Linked DNA regions of Homo sapiens. The protein of the gene in region 7 interacts with the protein of the main gene of each other region in a biochemical or structural test. Each region holds a gene or a part of one and is shown on either strand. Other genes may lie near its edges.

Region 1 (3,500 bases), on a different chromosome or scaffold from region 7:
GGATGAAAACCAGACACGACCTCATTTTCTAATCCAAAGAGCATGCTTTACTTATTAATTTGGCATTATTGGGTAGAAAGAAATGCCTTTGTCATGTTTCATCACACATATTCCACTTTTCACAGGAAGCAAATGTCTTTATTTCCTGTTTAACACAGGCTTCCAACCATGTCTCCTACCTCAGAGGTTTTCAAACCATTTCAGGCTATCAATAGGGACACAGTAGGCAACAGATTACTCATTCCAGTTCTTTGTACTTGATGGTTCCAAATAAATAAACCACGCTTCTCTGGGGGTAGAAAATGATGAGTTGTATGTAGTTTTGTCCATATCATGTAACCTATAGGTTTACTTTGCAAAATATGACACTGCTTTAAAGCAAGATCTACTGATTGCCCACTTCCTTATTACAATGCTTAAGTAAAAATTTCATTCATGCCTCATATTTGGAGTTGGCCTGAACTTTTCTGAGCACAGAATTTTGAGTGAAAAGTTGGCATCGGCCAGGCGCGGTGGCTCACGCCTGTAATCCCAGCACTTTGGGAGGCTGAGGCGGGTGGATCACAAGGTCAGGAGATCGAGACCATCCTGGCTAACACAGTGAAACCCCGTCTCTACTAAAAATGCAAAAAAAATTAGCCAGGTGTGGTGGCGGGCACTTGTGGTCCCAGCTACTTGGGAGGCTGAGGCAGGAGAATGGCGTGAACCCAGGAGGCGGAGCTTGCAGTGAGCAGAGATCATGCCACTGCACTCCAGCCTGGGTGACAGAGGGAGACTCCGTCTTAAAAAAAAAAAAAAAAAAAAAAAAAAAGTTGGCATCAAGCCTACAGCAAGTCTCTAGGAAGAGAACATTCAAAGAATGTTTTAAGAGACCACATGAAGTTGTTTGTTTCACAGGTTGAACATCCCTAATACAAAAACTGAAAATCAGAAATCCTCCAAAATTTGAAGCCTTTTGAATGCCAACATCCCACAAGTGGAAAATTCCACACCCAACCTCACGTGATGGGTTGCAGTCGAAACTTCATGCACAAAATTATTAAAATATTATATAAAATGACCTTCAGGCTATGTGTATAAGATATATATGAAATAATAAATTTTGTTATTTGACTTGGGTCCCTCCCCCAAGATATCTCTTATGTATATGCAAATATTTCAAAATCTGAAACACTTATGGTCCCAAGTATTTTGGATAAAGGATACTCAACCTGTAACTGGCTGCCATAGTCTACTCATTGTTAAATTAATTTTTGCATCGGAGTGGGAAGAAGAAGTAGAAATTAGCAAGCTGGGATATATTACAGGAATCTGTCACCCTTGCTTGCCAGCTTCTGTTAGACCACTGATGCAGGAAACCATGCAGAGGGGGCTCTAGGTAAGCAAGCACATATCCAGGCAAAATAGAAGGGGGTTGGCTTCTGCTTCCCTTACCTGCTCAAGCATCAGCTCTCTTAATCGTGCAATTTTCTCCCCATCTTCAGGGTGACTTAAGATATATTCTTTGACAAAGAATGCCTAGTAAGGGAAAGGAGAATCAGTCTACTTTAGTGGAGTACAAGGCAAGTCAAAGACAAGTTGTTTTTAAAGACCTGGCATCTTTATGGAAATGACACCATTACAAACCACATTTTGGGACAGATGGGCTGATTACTAGTGTAGGTGGTTGGTCAGAATGGGAACATAAGGAAAGAATTGTTAAAGGAAGATCAGTGATTGTACAATAAGTACCCTTGCTAAAATAAAGAACAAGCCCAAATCAGTAAGCTATATGGCTTGTATCCTAAAACAAACTGCCTTAAGATTCAGTGTGACCTAGATGGTGGCCTTACCTTCCAGGGTATTATATCTTTCTGTTTAAGAGAGCAGATGAAAGGTCCACTTAAAGTATCATCTAAGCAAGATCGGTCTTATCTTTTTTTTTTTTTTTTTTTTTTTTTTTAAATAAGAGATAAGATCTTCCTATGTTGCTCAAGCTGGTCTCAAACCAAAGTGCTGGGATTACAGGTGTGAGCCACTGAGCCCAGCCCAGATCAGACTTTTCTATGCCCATGAACTTCTTTGCTTAGAGAAATTATTTTAGACGGATATTTATTAAACAGTCCTAATGTCCTTTCTACTTTTATTCATGCAAGAATGAACACACACACACACATTTTTATTATCCAAATATAACATGTTGGGAAAATGGAGTTACTGGGCAATTACAAATGACTGTATGTTTGCTCTATTTAACAAAGGACTCTGTGTCAATCGCAGCCCTATGTTTGCGTGCTGATATGGGTACATAGTCTGAAAAAAGATTCATGAAACCCTAAGAAGTCACAATTGAAAACTTTCTCTGAAACAACAATACCTAATCCTTACCTCTTGATACCTGGAAACGCCACCATTAACTGCAGCATCTATAACTCCATTCAGGCACATAGTCAGGGGATTAATATTCTGCATCTGTCTTGTCTGACACTGACTAATCAGAGTCTTCAGCTGCTGATTCTTATTTTCTAGCACTTCAATTGCATTTTCCAGAGGACTCATTTCTACCTGAGAAGCAAATGAACATAAATATATATTGAATTTGTGACATTCAAGAAGAAAGACAAAGTAGTTTATCCATGTTCTGAATTATCTGTGCTCCCCCTTGGCTTCCATCAATATCTCTACCAGGGGCCATTCCGTAGAATAGACAAGGATGTGGAAGTCAAGTGGGATGTTCATTAGCAAGGTTTGGAAAGGGCAGGTAATTATACTTATTCATTGAAATGTGGTTTGGATAATCATCAATTCTACATTAGCACTGCAACAACCAATTTAATCCTTAAAATAATATCCAAGCATCTCATGTCTTTTAAAACTAGTTTTTTTTTTCTTTTGAAGGGTTAAATATTCAGAGACCCTGAATATTATCCCCTTTCTCATGCTTATTTGATACAAAGCACCATGGGAGATATAAAGATGCATTTATGGATCCTCTGATGTCAAGGAGCTTTCAGCCCAGTTGGGAAGATGGGACATATGCCACATGAACCTCATATATATATATAACAGCACCATAAGGTGGCACAGGATGGCACACAGTTGGGAATTATAGAAAACAAGATAATATATACTGCAGGATCTATTTGTTGGAGAGCCAAATAGAATCATAATGACTTAAAAATTCCAGGCTGTATGGAGGACCTAATTGTGAAAATGATAAAAGTGCTCTTCAAATGTATGTCATTGGGACTGCTATTGCCTTGAAGAGAAGGTCTGCCAAGCTCTCAGCAATCAAGTAATTCAGGACTACAATTAGCATATTTAAATATTGGTTCATTCAGGCAAGGAAACAAATTAGAGTTTTTAAAGGTCACTTGGATCATCTTAAACCAACACTGAAAAATCCTAGAATATGAAGACTGAACATTCATCAAAGACAAAGAGAAGGGAAGATAAGCAAGAACATAGAAGATTTTGTAACATGTGTAACCATCAAAAAGCACGTGTTCAGGGTATATAAG
Region 2 (3,500 bases), on a different chromosome or scaffold from region 7:
TACCGCACCCTGGTAACTGCCAGAGTTTCCGACCCTGCATGGGAAGGAGGCACTGGTTTGGGGAATGGGGGACTCACCCTTGGCCCAGGCGCTGTTGGCGGCCTTTCTGCCCAGCCCAGTGAGGAGCAGAGCACGAATCAGGGTGGCCTGAGTCCTGCAGAGGGGACCCCTGGGCGGTGTGGCAGCCCTCCTGGTCCTGACGTGCTCTACCAATCGAGCCACACTCCCGCCAAGGCGACCCGCCAGCTGTGGGCCCCGAGGAGGAGGGAGCCCGGGCGGAAACAGCGTCACCCATAGCTTCCAGGCAGGGCACTGACTCGCCTCGCCCAGGTGGGGTCTGAGTCACAGTCCTGCCCTCCACACTCCCTCCCTGGGTGGGCTCCGCACCTCTCCATCTGCCGGGAAGATCTGTGGGACAAGATCCCCCCCCGCCCTCTGGCCTCTCCCTCTGGATGCCCCATGCTCTTTCTGGGCTGCTTTGGGGCTCTGGCGGCTGGGGGGAGCGGGGGGCTGACCCAAGGCGGGTTACACAGAGAGGAAGGTGACGGGGATAGGCCCTCGGCAGGACAGGCCTACTCCAGGATCGGACCTACCTGAGCCCTGTGGGGTGGCTGTCCATGTTGGCCCTGGTCCATCAGGAGGAGGAAAGAAGGGAGACTTTGGCCCAGGCTTCTAGGACGTGTGACCGAGAGCTCCTGGGCCTGTGTCCCCCCAGGTGGTGGAATTGGGCATCCTGGACCAGCTCTCCACTGAGGAGCGGAAAAGGCAGGAGGTAAAAGGGCCCTGGGCGGGAGGGCTGTCCCCCATGGCCTGGGCCATGCAACACCCGGGGAGGGGCAGCAGCCACGGTGGCACCACCCAGCCATCCCTCTGCGGCCACCTCCAGTGCCAGGCCCTGTCACGCTGACCAGCGCCTCACACAGCCCCGGGCTGTGCTTCCACCTGCGCCAGGCCCTGACGGAGCCCCTTCACGTCACCGGGTGAATCCTCGGAGTCCAGGGGCTGCCATCACCCCCTTCTCTGACAAGGACGGGGGTCGTTGCCCAGCTTCAGCCGGCTCATAAGGCACCCAGCCAGGGGCATCCAGGGACGTCGGGCTGGCATCTCCAAGCTGGCCATTCTGACAGCCCCATCCAGGGGTGTGTCTGGGGTTCCTGTCCCCACCTGCCCCTGCCACCCGGGTCACGTCCTCCTGTTCCAAGCATTGGTCACCGAGGCACGCCCGTGTCCAGCGTCACTGTGGGGCTCACCTAGGCCCCTCTCCACAGGCCATGTTCGAGATCCTCACGTCGGAGTTCTCCTACCAGCACAGCCTGAGCATCCTGGTGGAGGAGTTCCTGCAGTCCAAGGAGCTGCGGGCGACCGTGACCCAGATGGAGCACCACCACCTCTTCTCCAACATCCTGGATGTCCTGGGTGCCAGTCAGAGGTGAGGCCACGCCACAGCCTTCCACACAGGGTCCTCTGCCAGGAAGGTGCCTCCCCCCGTGGGCACCGCACTGTCATCAGCAGGCCCCTGGGAGCCTGCGCTGCACCTTGATGTGGATGGTTTAGAGCAGCTGCTGGCTCCCGCGGAGTGTGATGACCTCTGAGGGTCCTTGAGGCCACCAAGAGCTGGCCCCAGGGCCGGGCTAAGCACTGGGGCTGTGGCATCCTGGTCGTTCTTAAGACGTGGAGCACTTCCCAGGGGTACAACCCTGCCCCACTGCCAAGCACCACCCCACCAGGACGTCCAGGCACAGAGGGCTGCATGATCCAGGCAGTGGTGGCCACAAGCTGCTCACCTGTAGGCAGGAAGCCTCGAGTTGCAGCTCTGGGTCATGTTCCACCCAAAGGTGTCTGGTGGCTGGACCTGAGCTCTGGTTGCAGGGCCTGGAGGTAGAGAGGCTGGACATGCAGCTGCAGCCATGCACGGGGGTATGTGCGTGGGGTGGGGTGGGGTGTGTGTGCGTGGGTGTGTGTGTGGGGTGGGGTGTCTGTGCATGGCTGTGTGTGCATGGTCAGTGGTGTGTGTGAGTGGGCTGGCCCCGAGGCCTGGAGGGTGGCTCGGGAGCATCCAGCACCCTGGTGTGTATGCATGGGTGTGTGGGGGCAGGGGTGTGTATGCATGGGCAAGGGTGTGTATGCATGGGCAGGGGTGTCTGCACGGGTGTGTCTGCACGGGTGTGTGTGGACAGGGTTGTGTGTGCGTGGGCAGGTATGTGTGTGTGTAGGTGTGCATGGGTTTGTGTGCCTGGGCAGCAGTGTGTGTGCATGGGTGTGGGGCAGGGGTGTGTATGCATGGTTGTGTGTGCGCGGGTGTGTGCATGGATGTGTGTGCATGGACGGGTGTGTGCACAGGCAGGGATGTGTGTGCGTGGGCAGGGGTGTGTATGCGTGGTCAGGGTTATGTGTGAGTGGGTAGGGGTGTGTGTGAGTGGCTGTGTTTTCGGTCAGGTGTGTGTGAGTGGGTGTGTGTGCGTGGGCAGGGATGTCTGTGTATCTGCGTGGTCAGGGATGTATGTGAGTAGGTGTGTGTGCGTGGGCAAGGGTGTCTGTGCATGGCTGTGTGTGCGTGGTCAGGGGTGTGTGTGAGTGGGCTGGCCCCAAGGCCCGGAGGGTGGCTCGGGAGCATCCGGCACCCTGGTGTGTATGCATGGGTGTATGTGCATGGATGTGTGTGTGGGCAGGGGTGTGTGTGCGTGGACAGGTGTGTGTGCGTGGGCAGGGGTGTATGTGCGTGGGTGTGTGTGCCTGGCCAGGGGTATGTGTGTGGGCAGGGGTGTGTGTGCATGGGCAGGGGTGTGCGTGGGTGTGTGTGCCTGGCCAGGGGTGTGTGTGCGTGGGCAGGGGTGTGCGTGGGTGTGTGTACCTGGCCAGGGGTGTGTGTGCGTGGGCAGGGATGTGTGTGTGCATGGACAGGTATGTGTGCATGGGCAGGGGTGTGTGTGCGTGGGTGTGTGTGCCTGGGCAGGGGTGTGTGTGCGTGGGTGTGTGTGCCTGGGCAGGGGTATGTGTGGTCTCGACCCTGTGCTGCTCCCTATATGCAGGAGGACCCCGGAGCATCGAGTCTCCTGAGCCTCAGCCTCAATGCTAACCTGAGGGGCGGTGCCTCTGGTCCCCTCGTGGGCTTGGGTGGCGCTGGGAGATGATTAGGGGCCTGTAGTGCCTGGCACAGGGCTGCCCCAACAGTGGTGGTTGCTGGCGCATTCTTATATCAGCCCCGCCCCTGGCGAGTCCCACCCATCTGCTGCCTGTGGGGTGCCCTTGCGGAACTTTGGGGCCCTGAGGGTGGGCAGGGAGCCGCCTTGTCCCTGGAGACAGGGGCTTCCTGTAGAGCTCCAGGGACCAGCTATGGGAAACTCCCAACCTCTGACTCAGCATGGGATGGGGCTGGGGGAGGGGGAGGGGTCTGGGATAGCGGCTGCCCCTCCCCCAGCTCTGCCCCCAGCCAGGCAGGCTTTGTGTTCTCTGAGCTCTGTGTCCTCCGGTCCCCTCTGCCTCAGGCAGCTGCATGTTTG
Region 3 (3,500 bases), about 140 Mb from region 7:
TTTATAATCTTTAGTATTTATTAAATACCAGGGGATCAATGATTGGTACTTTACAGTTCTGTGGCCTTTTAAAATTCTACCTTTTACTTTTCTTCCAGACATTACGTTTTTAAGTTTGTTGTAAATATGGTTTACATGCTCTTGGCATGTCATACAAAGTGCTAAATCCATCATTGCTGTACCTGTGGTTTCCTTAATCTTGGGGAGCCGATGGCATCCATCTCTCAATGTGCCAAACAGGGGTTCGGTGTTAATGGCTGTGTGCAGAGCAGGCACTGTCATCCGTGGACACATCCCTTCTGTCTGTGGGTGCAGTTCCTTAAAGGTGGCTCCGTGGTTGGGAAGCCCAGGGGCTCTCTCCTCTGAAGGAATGTAATTCACGCCTTTCCCAGAAGCGTCAGGAATCAAGTGCTTCCCCAGGGAGGGGCAGAGCGGCGACTCCACGGGTGTGGCACAGGCACTGCCACTGCTGCCTGTGCCACAGCCTGCATCCACTGAAGAGCCTTGGGAGCTCTGCAGAGAAAAATGGCCCTCGCTTTGCAGTGATGACATCCGCTTGGCCAAGTGGTAGTCACAAAGGCGGGCCACACTCTCATCAGCCTCAGGAAGCTTGGAAGGATGGTCGCAGGTGGACGAGTCAGCGTCCTCTGGGTTATCTAAGTCTTTGGCTGAAGATGCACAGGTCACGTCAGTTAAGAAGCGGTCCCCTTGACCAAGTCCTGAGCCATCACTGGTTTCTCCATCAGGAGCTCCTTCTTCCTTCCCTTCGGCCTCCCTTGCCCCAAGACCAGAAGCTCTTGGAAAGGTTTTCCCTGTTGCTGCTTCTAATCCACTTTTTTCAGCCATCCCACCTTCAGTGGCCACATACCATCTTTGACTGTCCTTGCGAAAGGCAGTTCTCTCCAGATTAAAAGTGCTCAGGTGTTGACTGTCTCGTGAAGACACAGTACCAAATTTACCACTGGCCTCCTCCTCCATCTCTGCCGTTTTGGTCCCCTGCTGTTTTTTTCCTGTTGTGTTCCCATTAGGGGGTGCCTTCCCCTCACCATCGGCCAGCTTGCTTTTCCTTTTGCTAGTGCAGGAGTATGCCACCGACCCCATGTGCAGTTTGCTAAAATAGTCAGTGACCGACTTAGTCTCCATAGTTTCAGGCTCCATCTCCATGTGGTCTGAGTGAAGTAACTGCTTGGAAGGCACAACTTTGGGCGGGAGGTCGGTTGCTGGCCTAGCAGCCAGGGCGTGCGAGGACTTTGGAGGCAAGCCCCCAGCGGGGGTCTTGGAGGCCGGGAACTCGGTCTGCTCTTCTGCAAGGGGGTGGTAGCCTTCGTGAGTGGCCAAGAACATGCGGGAGAGGTTTTCTGACTGTTTTTGTGCTGTGGCCAGTTCAGAACTCTCAGTCATTTCAGAAGAGTTAGTTTCATTGCCCGAGTCTGACGAAGACTCAGGACTATAAGCCCGCAAGATGGCTACACCTGCATGCCGTAAAAAACAAGAACTGATTAATGGATGCATCAGAGGCACTTGGAGACATGTAAGAAAATGGGACTCGTTATTACTAAAACAAAATACCAAGTTTTTCCCTTTTCAGTAAGGACTCTGAGTTTATTGCAGTTTTTCCAGAAATGGGGGTGGGGGGAGATGTGCCTTATGTTTTTAAAAAAAAATAACAAAGGAAATCACATACACACAAAAAAACCCATGATGGCAGTTTCAGCACATTTATGAAATGGGACATGTGTGAAATGGAGAACACCACGTAACAGGACTCCAGGGGCAAATGGCTTGGAAGGATGGAATGATATGGTTATCAGTGAATGAATGTAACAATTGTGAAAGAACCTGAATTGTCACTGGTCTGCTGTTCTTCTGACACGGATAGAGCCTCTAGAGCTCCCAGCGTGGAGACGACGGCATTATCCAGTCCCTTCTCACACTTGCCTTCGGCGCTGGTGGGCACAGCGTCAATGAGGGACACGGGGATCTCATCATTTTGCAGGCTGCTGCCTTTCTCCTTGTCCTCGGGGAAGGAAGCTGCCTGGCTCTGAGAGTCCTCTTCATCTGAACTGTCTCTAAAGCCAGGTGGGGGTGCGGCAATGGCCATGTTCAAGGAACGCAACAGGAAGTCATCCTCATTGTCATCACCTTCTGGAGGGGGCAGGGATGTGAGGTCAATGATGTCATCGCTTGACCCAGACAGGTTGAGGATGGCCGGCTGGTTCATCTCCCCCACCACGAGGTCCTCCTCGCAGCTCACCTCGTCCTCGTCCTCCGCGTCATCAGTGTTTTCTGCATAACAGATGTCATGCAAGAGGGGTTCCTCGATCCCCTCCGCGGCCTGGAAGCTCTTCACATCGCCTATGTTTGCATAAACAGAATTTTCCACAAACTGGATGCCCTCTGCCTCTGGAGTGAGATCCAGGCCCTTCATGTCATTGGCACTGCCAATGTAGAGATTTCTCTGCTTCTCCAGCATTTCAGGACCCTCATCTAGTAGCGTTTCATAGCCAAGGGTTGGGGGACTAATACCATCATCCAAGGCGAAGTCTCCAAAAATAAAGGACACTTTAGCTCCTCTCGGAGATTCCTGTGCTTTCTTCAGAGTTTCTGGTCCTGAGAGGGTCAATAGGGACCGCTGAGCTAGACTTCTGTAGTCTGCCTCACAGGGGGCCTCCCCGGGCTGGCTCAGCTGCTGGTTAAGTCCATCTGAACTATAGGCATTGTCTATGTACAAGTGCCGGTGCTCTTTTGGACACATGGTGCTGTCTGTGATCTCCACCGTCTTCTGCTTTGAATCTATGTATGTTATCTGGGCTTCTTGTTCCCCTTCGCCAATAAAGGTGGTCATTTGGGGTATACAGTTCCAATCTGGGCCAAGGAGGTTATGCTTCCCCTTGTTTTCAGGTCCTAAAGAGAAAGAATCACGCAAAGACACATTACTGTACTGTCTGGTTTTGGGTGGGGCGGGGGTGGGAGGCTCGTCTCTGTTTTTTAACTTAATGGCTTGTAGCATCACTTATGTAAATACAGTTTTTCAACTACCCAAATATAGTACTTATTGATTTAGGCTTCAGGTGTAAGAATTCCTTGGGTTAGGAGAACCGACCTTAACAAAATTGATACTGCATAAACTGTAATTGCTATTTGATAAAATGTAATACCATCTGGGGGTAGGGAAGTATAGCTTAATTCCATCTGACCCTTGGTTCTATTATTAAAAGGCTTCATTCATATCTACAAATGTAAATATACAACATGTCTTTTACCCTTAAAGGTGAGATTTCAATAGGCCGTTATTCCAGAACATTAATTGTTCTTTTCCTTGTAAGGTGAGATTTAATATTCCCTACTTCATGGAGGAAGATATTGAGTGTTTTCCTCATTGAATTCAGAGACGGTCAAGGATCGTCAGAGTTTTACCATAGTTTTTAGGAAATTAAGATAAATGTTGTAATGATAGTACAAAACTTCTATCTTCAGTCTTTTGATATCCTAGTGGATGT
Region 4 (3,500 bases), about 100 Mb from region 7:
ACCCTCAATGTTGCTATGCAATTGCTCTCTGGTGCAGCTGGGAACATCTGATCTTCAGTGATAGGATCATTCTCTCCTGCATCTTCCTCAGACAAATGGCACCTGCAACCAGCTGGCTTGTATCTTAACATTCAAGGCAAACAGGTTGTCATCTTAGCTGGGGTGATGTTGTTTTCAAACACTGCCTCCTCGAGGCAAGCTTGGGGGGAAAAAACTGTGCAACACGCACAGGCGTGCACACACCCCTAACACACACACATACTATACATATGTGCCCAAAATGTCAGGGAACAAAACAAAATACAGGTCTCATCATGCAATGAAATCCTCCATAGCAAGCATGAAACTATCCTGATAATTCAAAGGATGAAATGAGCAAAACCAAGTGTTTGAATATGACTGCAAGTTTCTCCCAGATAATTTTGTTGACTGGTATTGTAGCAAAAAACCAACATCTTTCAGCCTTGTAGTCTGCTCTTTTTTGGAATTTCAGGAAAGTTTCAGAACCTGCAATTGACTGAGAAAAGGGGGCTCATGTTTTCTTTTCAAATAGCTACCAGGATAACACAGTCAGTCTGTGAACCAAACATGTCTATTTCTTTCCTTTCTAAAATGTTTCAATTCCCAGGAAATGAGCCATGGTCTCCCACCTGGTGGCAGCAAGTGTAAGTAAGGATGTGTGAATTGGTTCTTTAGCAATGCTATAACTCTCTTGGGGGAGGGATGGGGCTTATATGAAGTAGACCATGTTTCTTTCTCTCTCATCAGCTGTGCTTGAAGAAAGACAAAATTTTGTTTATTCATTGGGTTTTGACCAGCTATGAAATGAAAATCACATCATACAAATGATTGATGAAAATCTGAGGGGAGATACACTTTCATGGCTTTTGGGGGAGATAAAAGGGGTCTGTGTATCCCTCCTGATGACTGCACAGTAATAACCATTATCCTCAAACCATATCAGGACAGCTTTTATGCACAAAACTGATATTTTTGTACATTTTCTTGCAAAATAGCAAGCATTTGTTTATATGATATCTGGTGATTCCTATCAATATTTTATTAGTGATTTCTGAGCTTCTCAAAAATAGGGGTGGCCTTTCTCAGTGCCTAGTTCAATGCAGCCCTCCTTGATTTTGCTTAATAAACACTTGCTGAAGCTTGAAAACTATCCATTTCCAGCAATGTAGAGGCTGCTGCTGTGAATGAATAAAAATTTGTTCTCATTGGTTTCAGAGTGAGAAGTAAATACTTATTTAAATGGCATGGAATATATAGCCCTTAAGGAAATACAGTCAATCTTTCCATTTTCAGAGTGGTTATTGGAACTATAATTAAGAAGCAAATTACTAACAATTTTTATTAATGGCTTGGAAAGTGTCCTTATCCCATGCAGTCCCAGCAGCAGCAGACTAATAATGATATTGTTAGCTTCAGGGGATAATAAATTTTTTTCCTAAGTGAACAGAGTATCTGCAGTGACTGTAAACAGATTTGGGATTATAGATTCAGATGTTTAACCTGTTGAAGGTCAGAATGAAATTACTTTCTTTTCTCTTCAGTTTTTCCCCCCTCCTTGCCAAGCTTTGATGATACCATCTGATTTATTTGGTGTATTCTAATAGTTCCTAAGCAGTCACTACAGGGTGTTCTAGAAAAGATAATGAAGTATTGGTCAGTGGTCTTTAGTTTCTCAGAGTACAATTCTTATGCACTTATTAAAATCTCCGACTAGGGCTTCTGCAGATCTGCAGCCCAAAGGGAAAGTGCCTCCAAGGAAAGGCAAAAAAAAAAAAAAAAAAAAAAAAGAAAAAAGAAAAAGAAAAAAATATCCATAGAAACCAGGAAACCATTCAGGGGTATTCTAATAAGGATTATATAGTTCCTTCTGCTCCTGTGGCACTTTACAGTTTACAGAGTGCTTGCCTCTGCATTATTAACCCTTTTATTTCCTTGAACAAGGCAGCAGGTGGGGGAGGGCAAAAATAAAACTTGACAGCTTATAGGATGTAATGATTGAATTTTCTATTGTAGATTTTTTTAAAAATCTGACATATGGCCTTTTGTGATACATAGGATCCTCATTTGTCTAAGAACAGTCTTTTAGCTGACATTTCATCAGCTCTGAATTTTTTTCCAAAGCGGTGGTTGCTGCTCCACTTCTGATGCTCCCAGAGGGGGCCAGCATAGAAGAGGAGCCAGAGAAGAAACGAGAAGAGGCAGAGACCCTGAACCGATTACTCACAAAGACCTTTTTTGTTGGTGCGTGTGTGTTTTGTAAAGGAAATAAATTGAAATCCTGCTAAGGATAGGGTGCCCGACCTTTCCAAAGCCCACCCACTGTAATTCTTTCAGTGGAAAAAAAATAATTTTAAAGGAAAAAAAAAAAAGCAAGCAAGCAGCCATTCTAAAGGGAGATGCCCCACCCTCACCAAAGCAAATAGAGCTCATTCTCAAAATAATAAAAACAAATTTATGAATTTTAAAAACGAAAAGAAAGGGACAGTGACCCCAGATAATGAAATTTATCTCTCCTCTGAAAATTATTTTAAGAAAAAAAAAGAAACAGCTTCTAAAAGGAAGTTATCCTCACCCTCATCAAAGCCCATGGAACTTATATCCCCCAAAGAAAAATTTTAAGATGAAAAAAGAGAAATCATCTTAAGTTAAACAGTATTTCTAACCTTAAAATATTCATGAAATTTGTAAACTTTATTTGACTTCATGGCTCATGCTTAATCTCTTGAGAAAATTAAGGGGGCAAAAATAAAGGGAAGGTCCCCCAACCTCATCAAAGCTTCCTGACATTATTTTCCCGATTACATAAAATGTGCAGAGGAGGCAAATCCTTAGAGATGGAAAGGAAATGAGGGAAGCAATATGGGAGGTGGAAAAGGGGATGATGGCTAAAGAGTACAGGGTTTCTTTTGAGGGTGATTAAAATGTTCTAAAATCAGAGAATGGTGATGGGTGCACAACACTGTGGATACAATAAAACCCACAAAATTGTGTATGTTAAGATGATGAATTTTATGGTATGTAAATTACATCTCAATTTTTAAAAATAGTTCAAAGAAAGATACCATCCCTCTAACCACAAGATAAGAGACCTATTATTCTCCCAAAAACAAAAAACAAACAAAATTGAAAAAAGGAACTAAAAGAAAGGGAGATCCTCTTAAAGGATCTTCAACCTCGCCAAGGATAATAACCTTTATTTGCCACCCCTTCAATTAAAAAAAAAGAAATTAAGGAAAACAAACAAAAAAAGGAAATCTTTTTAAGGGCAGATATTCTCAAAAATCATAAAAGTTAATGAAATTTACGAATCCTCCCCTCTAGATACACACATTTTAATTAAAAAAAGAAAGAAATATTAAAGGATAGGTCCCTGACTATACCAAATCTCCAGAATTTTTAATTCCAAGAAGCAGGGGCGCGGGGGGTGCGGGAGGGAGGGACAAAAGAAATACCACTCCTCCATGACTAAAGAGCATAAA
Region 5 (3,500 bases), on a different chromosome or scaffold from region 7:
ATGGAGTTTCACTCTTGTTGCCCAAGCTGGAGTGCAGTGGCGTGATCTCGGCTCATTGCAACCTCTGCCTCCGGAGTTCAAGCGATTCTCCTGTCTCAGCCTCCCAAATAGCTGGGACTACAGATGTGCGCCACCATGCTCAGCTAATTTTTTGTACTTTTAGGAGAGATGGGGTTTCAACATGTTGTCCAGGCTGGTCTTGAACTCCTGACCTCGGGTGATCCACCCACCTGGGCCTCCCAAAGTGCTGGGATTACAGGCGTGAGCCGCCATGCCCAGCCTGGACTATGTTTTCTACCCCAACCTTGTGGTCAGAGGTGACCATGAAACTGAGACCTGGCCAATAGGAAGTGGTTGCAAAAGGTGTCTCGCTTCCACGACTGGAACACAAAAACCAGCCCCATGCAACGCCTCTCCAGCTGAATAAAGAGGCCTCCTGGAGAGGAGGAGGACTGAGAGGAGGCCGAGCCGCAAGATGGTGAAAGTCCAGCTAGGAGTAAATGTATGGTGTTGTTCACCACCCTAGATGGCCCAAAAGGGGACTATAGCATGACAATAGGCATGGTCTTGGTTTCTTGTTTTCTTTTTTGAGACGGAGTCTATCTCTGTCTTGCAGGCTAGAGTGCAGTGGCGTGATCTCGGCTCACTGCAACCTCTGCCTCCCGGGTTCAAGCGATTCTCTTGCCTTAGCCTCCTCCCAAGTATCTGGGATTACAGGAGCTCAAAACCACGCCCGGATAATTTTTTATTTATTTATTTATTTTGTATTTTTAGTAGAGAAGGGGTTTTGCTGTGTTGGCCAGGCTGGTCTCCAACTCCTGACTTCATGTGATCCACTGCCTCGGCTGGTGATTTTGAATTAAGCCATTGAGAATCAGGGCTTGTTTAATAGCTAGCATTATTTGCACGATACAGTGGCTGCCTCCCTCATTGTGTGAGCTCTTTGAGAACAGGAATGGTACTTTATTGTAATGGATTTGCACCTGGCAAGAAAGAAGGCACCCTGCCTTCTTTCATGGTGGCACATGCCTGTAATCCCAGCTACTTGGGAGACCGAGCAGGAGAATCGCTTTAACCCAGGAGGTGGAGGCTGCAGTGAGCCAAGATTGCACCACTGCACTCCAGCCTGGGCTACAGAATGAGACTCTGTCTCAAAAAAAAAAAAAAGCAAAAGAAAACGTAGTCCAGGCTGGGTGCGGTGGCTTATGCCTGTAATCCCAGCACTTTGGGAGGCCGAGGCAGGTGGATCACAAGGTCAGGAGTTCAAGACCAGCCTGGCCAACGTAATGAAACCCCGTCTCTACTAAAAATACAAAAATTAGCTGGGCGTGGTGGCATGCACCTGTAGTCCCAGCTACTCGAGAGGCTGAGGCAGGAGAATTGCTTGAACCCGGGAGGCAGAAGTTGCAGTGAGCCAAGATCACGCCACTGCACTCCAGCCTGGGCAACAGAGCGAGACTCCATCTCAAAAAAACATAGTCCGTGTGTCCAGCAGTCGCTGCTGCAGGAGTTCATCCTGAACCCGTGTTGGGTGTGCTGGAGTAGAAGTATGGAAAAGCTGTGTGAGGGTGGGGATTTTGTTTTTGTTTTTGTTTTTTGAGATGGAGTCTCTGTCGCACAGGCTGGAGTGCAGTGGCATGATCTCGGCTCACTACAACCTCCGCCTCCCGGGCTCAAGCGATTCTCCTGCCGCAGCCTCCCAAGTAGCTGGGATTACAGATGTGCACCACCAGGCCTGGCTAATTTTTTTGTTGTTGTTAGAGACAGGGTTTTGCCATGTTGGCCAAGATGGAGATCTCTGGGGAGGGGTTTACCTTCCTGTTGGAGCTTGGATGGAGAAGGTGGGAAATCGTTCCTGGCAGGGGATGAGATGTCCAGGTCACAGAACTGCAGTTGGAGAAAGTGTTGCCTGAGACGTGTGGCGAATGACCACCCCTCAGTCGCTATGTCGTCCCTGCCAGCCGGTAGCGTTTGTTACACCCAAGGTTGCCCTCCCCTCTTTCATCCCAGCAGATGTTCAGACTTTGCTTCTCCCACTTCCAGCCCCTTACTCATGAGTACTTACAGCCCTTTTGTGGCCTGCGACGTAGCTCCTTGTTCCATTTCTGGGTTCCATGACCACTTCCGTGCTGGTCTGTTTCAGGCCTAGTCCCTGTCTGCTCTTTTCTCTGCGCTAGCTCCTATCTTCCCCTTTTCCTTAGTGTCATAGAATTAGTGGGTTGAAAGGAAGAGATCTTCTAGCCCACACTCAGTACAGGAATCCCTTCCAGATACTGGGCAGTGGGGAAATGCATTATGTGACTCTCATGACTTTAGATTCGAATGCCAGAATTATGTTGTATTGAGCCACAGTTTTCTTTCCATGCAATTTCTACTTGTGTTTACTTACTTCTAAGAAAAGCATTACAGAATTTAATGAAGCAAAGAATGATCTGTGAATCAAGCAGCTCCTAGAACCAAAATAGGTTCAGAGCCGCTCTCCTTTGTTTTTTTGTCAACACGCAGAGCAAGTTGGCTACCTCCCTTCATATGCTCGCCTCATAGTATTCAAAGACAGCTATCATGGCCACATTAAATCTTTGTTTCTTTGTTTGAGACAGGGTGTCACTCTGTCACCCAGGCTGGATTGCAGTGGTGCGATCTCAGTTCACTGCAACTTTCACCTCCTGGGCTCAAGCCATCCTTCCACCTCAGCCCCCTGAGTAGCTGGGACCACAGGTGTGTGCCAGCATGCCCAGCTAATTTTTTATATTTTTTGTAGAGATGAAGTTTTGCCATGTTGCCCTGGCTGGTATTGAACTCCTGGGCTCAAGTGATCCTCCCGCCCTAGCCTCCAAAAGTGCTGGGATTACAGGCATGCGCCATGGTGCCTGGACAGGAGTTTATTTTTGACCCTGTTAAGTTTGAGATGCCTGCTACACATTCAAGTGGAGATGTTGAATAGGCATTCAATTGGTCATGAGTTTGGGGCTCATGGAGAAGTTTATCTTATTATTATTATTTCTTTAAATGGAGTTTCACTGTGTTGCCCAGGCTGGCGTGCAGTGGTATGATCTTGGCTCACTGCAACCTCCACCTTCTGGTTCAAGCAATTCTCGTGCCTCAGCCTCCCGAGTAGCTGGGATTACAGGCACGCGCCACCACACCCAGCTAATACTTGTATTTTAGTAGAGATGGAGTTTCATCATGTTGGCCAATGTGGTCAGGAAGTTTATGTCAATTTGGGCATCATCAGTGATACATGCAGTTGAGCTATATTGGACACATGGCCAATTGACCTCACAGTCCGCAGGGCTTGTCCCCATGTAACTGCTCTTCTATCCCTATGCAAATTCATTTTGTAGATGCTAACGTTTAGCAGCTCATTGTTGCTGTTGAAAGTTCTTGGAACACTTTCGTAGTCTGAATGCTAGAAAGGATGGGTCCTAGGAATGTCCTCTAGGTTGTGGCAGATCCACTAATCAACACTGTGGTTGCTAGATTAACTTGGCCACAAGTGT
Region 6 (3,500 bases), on a different chromosome or scaffold from region 7:
GGCCCCAGGGCATGGTGCCCGCACAGTACCTGCAAAGGCGGGCGATGACATGGGCCTCAAAACACAGTCTCTGCAGGACAAGGACAGCAGGGCTCCCCCCAGCTCCGGTAGCCCCCTCCTCACCTGGGGATGTTCAGGAAAACAACACACTGGGGTTTCAGGTCCTGGATCTTGGGAGTCAAGTCCATTCCATCACACTGGAGGCGGGCGGGGAGGGTGTTGAGGTGCATGTGCCAGGTGGCCTCCGCCTCCCTCCCTTCCGGCCCACCCACCCACGGCAGCCTGGCCCCGCTCACCACCACTCGGATGTGCTTGGCCAGGTCCTTGGAGCTGCCCATCAGGAAGTCAGAGAAAGCTGTCTGTGGGAGACAGAGGGCGTCACCATCTGCTGACAGAGATCTTTCCTCACCAGCACCCGGCAGGGCTCCTGGGGCCTGGTGGACACAGGTGGGCACGGGCACGGGTGGTAGAAGAGGTGGGCACAGGCGGGGGTGCAGACCCCACTCACCCCGGCGTAGAACATCTTATTCCGAAAGCGGCTGTTGAATTTCTCTGGGTTGGCCTCTGGGTGGAGACAAGCAGTGGGGGCCAGTGAGTCACCCCAGCCTGCCCAGGTGGGGTTGGGGGAGGGCTGGGATGGATGCCTTCACTGGCGGGAGCAGGGTCTGACCCTCCCGGGGACACTCCTGTGCCCACCCTGCCCTGGCCTCAGTGGGAGGCTGCCAACCTCGAGACTCGTGGAACTCCAGGGTGACGTGGGCGTCAAAGCCCAGGCTGAAGTAGTTGTTGAAGACATCCAGGGGCAACTGGAAAAAGGTCAAGGGACCAAAATGAGGGCTGGGCCTCACAAATGTCCCCGCTCCAGGGGCCTCGTGTGGCCGAGCCAGCTCAGCCCATCTGTTCACAGGCTTTTCCTGGTCAGCAGCGTCCGCTAGGGCTCAGCCCAGCTCACCCGCTGTCAGGCACAGCCCTGCTCTGCCTGGTGGCTCCTGGGGGATTTCCCTGCGTGCCTGCAGCATCTCTTCCCTGTCAGCTCCCCTAACACTTCTTCCTGACATGCCATGTGGAGCACAACAGCGAGGCTTGGTTTTGCTCACTGCTTAGAGAAGTGCCTGGCAGGTAGCAGGCGCTCAGTGCATGTCTATGGAATAAAGCAGCATCTTCTGACCAGGCGTGGTGGCTCATGCCTGTAATCCCAGTGCTTTGGGAGGCCGAGGCAGATGGATCACCTGAGGTCAGGAGTTCAAAACCAGGCTGACCAACATGGTGAGACCCCATCTCTACTAAAAATACAAAAATTAGCCGGGTGTGGTGGCGGGTGCCTGTAGTCCCAGCTACTCAGGAGGCTGACGGAGGAGAATAGCTTGAGCCCGGGAGGCAGAGGTTGCAGTGAGCCAAGACTGTGCCACTGTACTCCAGCCTGGGTGACAGTGAGACTCTGTCACAAAAAACAAAAAACAAAAACAAAAAAAAAAACAAGAAAAAAAAAAGAAAACAGAAAAACAAAAATTAGCCAGGTGTGGTGGCACCTGCCTATAATCCCAGCTACTCAGGAGGCTGAGGCAGGAGAATCGCTTGAACCTGGGAGGCGGAGGTTGCAGTGAGCTGGGATTGCGCCACTGCACTCCAGCCTGGGTAACAGAGCGAGACTCAGTCTCAAAAAAAAAAAAAAAAAAACAAAAAAAAAACACAGAAAAAACAGCATCTTGTGAGGCAAGTACTATTATTCCCATCGTACAAGGAAGAAGTGGAAGTTGGAGAAATGAAGAGACACGCCCGAGGTCCCAGAACCAGCAAGTGGAAAAGTGGGATCCAGTCCCCAGTCACCTGCCCTGCCCCCCACCAACCCTGGCCAACTTACCCGGTCGGTGGCGCCTTCATCTCGGTCCTCAGGCCCTGCCTCGGGGTTGGGCTCAGCGTGGAGGTCCCAGCGGTCCAGCTGTACCACGTTCCCCTCCTCCACGTGGGAGAGGATCTTGGACACAGGCTCATCTGTGTAGCCCTGGGGGAGCAGGCAGGGACTGAGCCCTCTGTGGCTGGAGAGGCCCCAGCTGCACCCCCCTCCTATGGGTGCTTACCCCACCCCAGTTGAGGGTTCGGGCCAAGTCGTTGCCAGTACCCAGGGGCAGGATGGCAACAGGGGGTGGCGGCTTCAGGCGTAGCTGGTCCAGGGTGGAGAGGATCCAGCCCACCTGGGGGAGGAAGAACAGAGGCAAATCAGGCCCACAGGGACCCCGGCTTCAGGCCCAGCCCTGGTGCTCGGCTGGCCCATGCGGGGAGCTCACCGTGCCGTCGCCCCCGCACGCCAGGATCCGCAGGTTGTGCACTTTGCGGTACATCTCCAGCCTGGGCTCATGGGAAGATGGCAGTGGGGTCAGGGGATGTGTGCTGTACCCCAGGAGTGAGGCAAGTTCCCCCCCATGTCCCCCACAAAACCTTGGCAAGTACTTACGCCTCCTTGGGCCCTCCCTGGCTCAGGTCGAAGACTTGTCGGGGATTGAGATACCAGAGGAAAGACTGGATGATCTTTGCACCCTGGATGGGATGGGGAGCCAAGAGACAGTCAGGCAGTGGTGGGACGAAGTGGGAGCAGCAGAGGGAGAGGGGTGTGACTGTGGGAACCAGGGCCAATAAGGGGTGAGGGGTGGAGAAAGGACAGGATTTTCTCAGGATCCCTGGGAAAGAGGGATTGGGGTAGAAGCCAGAAACGGGCTCTGGGAACAGCTGCTGGCAGACGGGCTGGACCCCAACCCCCGCCCGAGCCCTTAGCTGAGAGGCAAGGCCGCGTTCACCTGGTTGCCCCCACTCTTGGGGTTCACAAACACCAGCAGGGGCTTCATGAGCGGGGAGGGGGTGGGCCTGATGATGAAGGGTCTCCAGCGGCCCTCCTGGGAGACAAGGTGAGAGGCTGTAAGCTCCTTCCCGTCCAGGACACCCTACCATCATCCTTAGCAGGCCCCCTGGGTGACTTTGTTCCCTCTTTGTACCCTCACGTACCATCTCTGGGCCAGATCTTACCAGGCCACAGAGCAGAAACTGGCATCTAATCCTGCCTTCCTCAGAGGCCCCAGAGCCCACACAGACCCCCACCAGCTGGCAGCATTAGCTGGGGGTGGAAGTTCTGTACCCTGAGCAACAGACCCCTCTCTCCTGCTCCCCTGCAGCCTCTGCCCAGCCTGGGGCTGACCTCAGGCCCTTTCTTGCTGGACTTCCTCTTGAAGGATGCCCTCTTCTTCTTCTTGCTTGCTTTCAGAGTATTCTGCAAGGGAAGCAGGGGTGTTGGTGACGAGGTGGGCAGGCTGGGGTAGCTGGCAGACCCCAAGTGCGTACGGGGCATCAAGGGTGCAGGCAGTACTCACCTGGGGCCTCCGGGCGCGGAGGATCCAGGTGGGCGGGATGACCACGGCTGCGTGGACCCCCAGCGAGCACGGCTCCTCGATCTGCTGCAGCATGAAGCAGGACACCTTGCTGTGGTACTGAGGAGAGCGAGGGGCCGGGCT
Region 7 (2,439 bases):
GGACAGCAGATGGGCCTGAGAACTAGCAACAGGGTTGCTGTCTAGCCTTCTCCCGAACCCATCTTGGGCAGATGTCTTGTGTATCCCCAGGAGGGGGATGGCCCCTCGCTCCCCTCCCTACTAGTAGCATCCCACTAAAGCCACCCTTCCAGATGGACAATGTCCTACTTCCCACCAATGCCCGGGGCTGACCAAAAGCACAGGCTTCCGTGCAGAAGAGCCTAGGAGTGCAGGGCAGGGGCGGGGAGAGGTGACTACTCCACAGCCTCTGCCTCTGCTTCCTGGGGCTCAGAGCTGGAAGGGGAGCCAGAGAGCCTTCAGCTTGCTTTGGGGGCCCCTGAGGTGAGCCTGCCCCCTTCTACCGAAAGGGCATGTTAGGCACCAAGTCCCCAAGATGCGTGTGTCCTGCAGGTAAATCCCAACAGCATTGCAGCCAAAGACGGCCGGATCCGTGAGGGAGACCGCATCATCCAGGTGAGCACTTGCAGGCTGCAGGCCTGGCCCAAGGCCCCGCTGTGCCCGTCGGCCCAGCCACCTCTCTTTAGCCAGTCCCTAGCTCTCTCCCACTAAGAGCTAACCCTGAGGCCCAGCAGCCTGCCGTGTCCTAAACCCGGGCTGAGTCTCATCTCTCTCCTGCCCACTCACCCCAGTGGCTCCCGTGTGCCTATGGGATCTGCTGGCATCCAGGGCCCCTGCTGCTCTGAAACCTCCTGGCCCCTCTCCCTCTGCCCCACTCCATGCTCTCCTGAGCACACATTTGCTCTTGCAAGAGTCAGGCCGCCCTCTCCCTGGTACCTTCCACTTAGTTACATCCTCCCAGAGCTCAAGCCCCAGCCTAGCCCAGCCGAGCCCAGAGTGCTTGGGCTCCCTGCACCCGCCCAGGGTCCGCCCCAGGGCCAGCCCTAGCATGCTTGTTGATTGTATCCTGCCTGCCTCAGATTAACGGTGTAGACGTCCAGAACCGGGAAGAGGCGGTGGCCATCCTGAGCCAGGAAGAGAACACCAACATCTCCCTGCTGGTGGCCCGACCTGAGAGTCAGGTGTGTATGCCTGGCAGGGCGACCCGGGGCCACGACATCAGGCTTTCTGTCTTGGAAGCTGCTGGCCGTGACTAGGGCACAGATGTGCCAACGACCTGGAGTTGATGGAGGGCGGGTGGGCAGGGGTCTCTCAGGGCCCGTTTCCCCTCCTGGCCTCTGAAGGCTGAGGGGGCTGGGACGCTGCCCCCAGGTTGCTGAGCTTCACCGAAACAAGCCAAGTGCGGGGTCCAGAGCAGACAAGAAGGGTATATGGGGAGGTCCTTGAAGCTGTGGGGACACCAGGGCCTGTCTCCACAGCTGGCGAAAAGGTGGAAGGACAGCGACCGGGATGACTTCCTGGATGACTTTGGCTCTGAGAATGAGGGGGAGCTGCGTGCTCGTAAACTGAAATCACCCCCTGCCCAGCAGGTGAGGAAGGAAAAGGGCGCTGGTGGGGAGGGCGAGGAGGAGAGAACTGGGTGGAAGGCGCTGAGGCTGTGCAGGGTCTCCCAATGCTTGGCAGGGAAATGAACCAGGCCTGAAGCCCCTTCCGATCCTCCTGTGACATCCCGTGACATCCCTGTCCGTGGGACCTAACTGAGCGGTACTTACCTTTCTGCTCTAGCCCGGAAACGAAGAGGAGAAGGGGGCTCCCGATGCCGGCCCAGGCCTGAGCAACAGCCAGGAGCTGGACAGCGGGGTGGGCCGGACTGACGAGAGCACCCGGAACGAAGAGAGCTCTGAGCACGACCTGCTGGGGGACGAACCCCCGAGCTCCACCAACACCCCGGGAAGCCTGCGCAAGTTTGGCCTGCAAGGGGACGCCCTGCAGAGCCGGGACTTCCATTTCAGCATGGACTCTCTGCTGGCCGAGGGGGCGGGGCTGGGAGGGGGCGACGTCCCGGGCCTCACGGATGAGGAGTATGAGCGCTACCGTGAGCTCCTGGAGATCAAGTGCCACCTGGAGAACGGCAACCAGCTGGGCCTCCTCTTTCCCCGGGCCTCCGGAGGCAACAGCGCCCTGGACGTCAACCGCAACGAGAGCCTGGGCCACGAGATGGCCATGCTGGAGGAGGAGCTAAGGCACCTGGAATTCAAGTGCCGCAACATACTGCGGGCGCAGAAGATGCAGCAGCTGCGTGAGCGCTGCATGAAGGCCTGGCTGCTGGAGGAGGAGAGCCTCTACGACCTGGCGGCCAGCGAGCCCAAGAAGCACGAGCTGTCCGACATCTCCGAGCTGCCCGAGAAGTCGGACAAGGACAGCACCAGCGCCTACAACACTGGGGAGAGCTGCCGCAGCACCCCGCTGCTTGTGGAGCCCCTGCCCGAGAGCCCCCTGCGGCGGGCCATGGCCGGCAACTCCAACTTGAACCGGACCCCTCCCGGCCCCGCTGTTGCCACCCCCGCCAAGGCAGCTCCT

What was found.
Region 1: the proteins of PDZD4 (region 7) and DOCK4 interact in a test that uses a peptide from one of them, tested with the Homo sapiens proteins (one large-scale study listed by IntAct).
Region 2: the proteins of PDZD4 (region 7) and ARHGEF16 interact in a test that uses a peptide from one of them, tested with the Homo sapiens proteins (one large-scale study listed by IntAct).
Region 3: the proteins of PDZD4 (region 7) and FRMPD4 interact in a test that uses a peptide from one of them, tested with the Homo sapiens proteins (one large-scale study listed by IntAct).
Region 4: the proteins of PDZD4 (region 7) and DGKK interact in a test that uses a peptide from one of them, tested with the Homo sapiens proteins (one large-scale study listed by IntAct).
Region 5: the proteins of PDZD4 (region 7) and ABCC4 interact in a test that uses a peptide from one of them, tested with the Homo sapiens proteins (one large-scale study listed by IntAct).
Region 6: the proteins of PDZD4 (region 7) and DGKZ interact in a test that uses a peptide from one of them, tested with the Homo sapiens proteins (one large-scale study listed by IntAct).

The regions. Positions count from the first base shown.
Region 1 is NC_000007.14:111,744,900-111,748,399, forward strand, and holds part of DOCK4 (dedicator of cytokinesis protein 4), read right to left. Parts: intron 2,545-3,500; coding exon 2,368-2,544; intron 1,519-2,367; coding exon 1,435-1,518; intron 1-1,434. UniProt on the Homo sapiens protein: Functions as a guanine nucleotide exchange factor (GEF) that promotes the exchange of GDP to GTP, converting inactive GDP-bound small GTPases into their active GTP-bound form. Involved in regulation of adherens junction between cells.
Region 2 is NC_000001.11:3,468,165-3,471,664, forward strand, and holds part of ARHGEF16 (rho guanine nucleotide exchange factor 16), read left to right. Parts: intron 1-715; coding exon 716-772; intron 773-1,268; coding exon 1,269-1,429; intron 1,430-1,835; coding exon of another isoform or gene 1,836-1,917; intron 1,918-3,500. UniProt on the Homo sapiens protein: Guanyl-nucleotide exchange factor of the RHOG GTPase stimulating the exchange of RHOG-associated GDP for GTP. May play a role in chemotactic cell migration by mediating the activation of RAC1 by EPHA2.
Region 3 is NC_000023.11:12,715,473-12,718,972, reverse strand, and holds part of FRMPD4 (FERM and PDZ domain-containing protein 4), read right to left. Parts: intron 2,905-3,500; coding exon 1,840-2,904; intron 1,473-1,839; coding exon 183-1,472; intron 1-182. UniProt on the Homo sapiens protein: Positive regulator of dendritic spine morphogenesis and density. Required for the maintenance of excitatory synaptic transmission. Binds phosphatidylinositol 4,5-bisphosphate.
Region 4 is NC_000023.11:50,464,326-50,467,825, reverse strand, and holds part of DGKK (diacylglycerol kinase kappa), read left to right. Parts: intron 1-3,500. UniProt on the Homo sapiens protein: Diacylglycerol kinase that converts diacylglycerol/DAG into phosphatidic acid/phosphatidate/PA and regulates the respective levels of these two bioactive lipids.
Region 5 is NC_000013.11:95,291,452-95,294,951, reverse strand, and holds part of ABCC4 (ATP-binding cassette sub-family C member 4), read left to right. Parts: intron 1-3,500. UniProt on the Homo sapiens protein: ATP-dependent transporter of the ATP-binding cassette (ABC) family that actively extrudes physiological compounds and xenobiotics from cells.
Region 6 is NC_000011.10:46,371,463-46,374,962, reverse strand, and holds part of DGKZ (diacylglycerol kinase zeta), read right to left. Parts: intron 3,477-3,500; coding exon 3,360-3,476; intron 3,260-3,359; coding exon 3,188-3,259; intron 2,889-3,187; coding exon 2,793-2,888; intron 2,536-2,792; coding exon 2,453-2,535; intron 2,347-2,452; coding exon 2,286-2,346; intron 2,193-2,285; coding exon 2,079-2,192; intron 2,003-2,078; coding exon 1,862-2,002; intron 807-1,861; coding exon 728-806; intron 565-727; coding exon 509-564; intron 360-508; coding exon 297-359; intron 198-296; coding exon 124-197; intron 30-123; coding exon 1-29. UniProt on the Homo sapiens protein: Diacylglycerol kinase that converts diacylglycerol/DAG into phosphatidic acid/phosphatidate/PA and regulates the respective levels of these two bioactive lipids.
Region 7 is NC_000023.11:153,804,106-153,806,544, reverse strand, and holds part of PDZD4 (PDZ domain-containing protein 4), read left to right. Parts: intron 1-411; coding exon 412-474; intron 475-938; coding exon 939-1,040; intron 1,041-1,337; coding exon 1,338-1,448; intron 1,449-1,644; coding exon 1,645-2,439.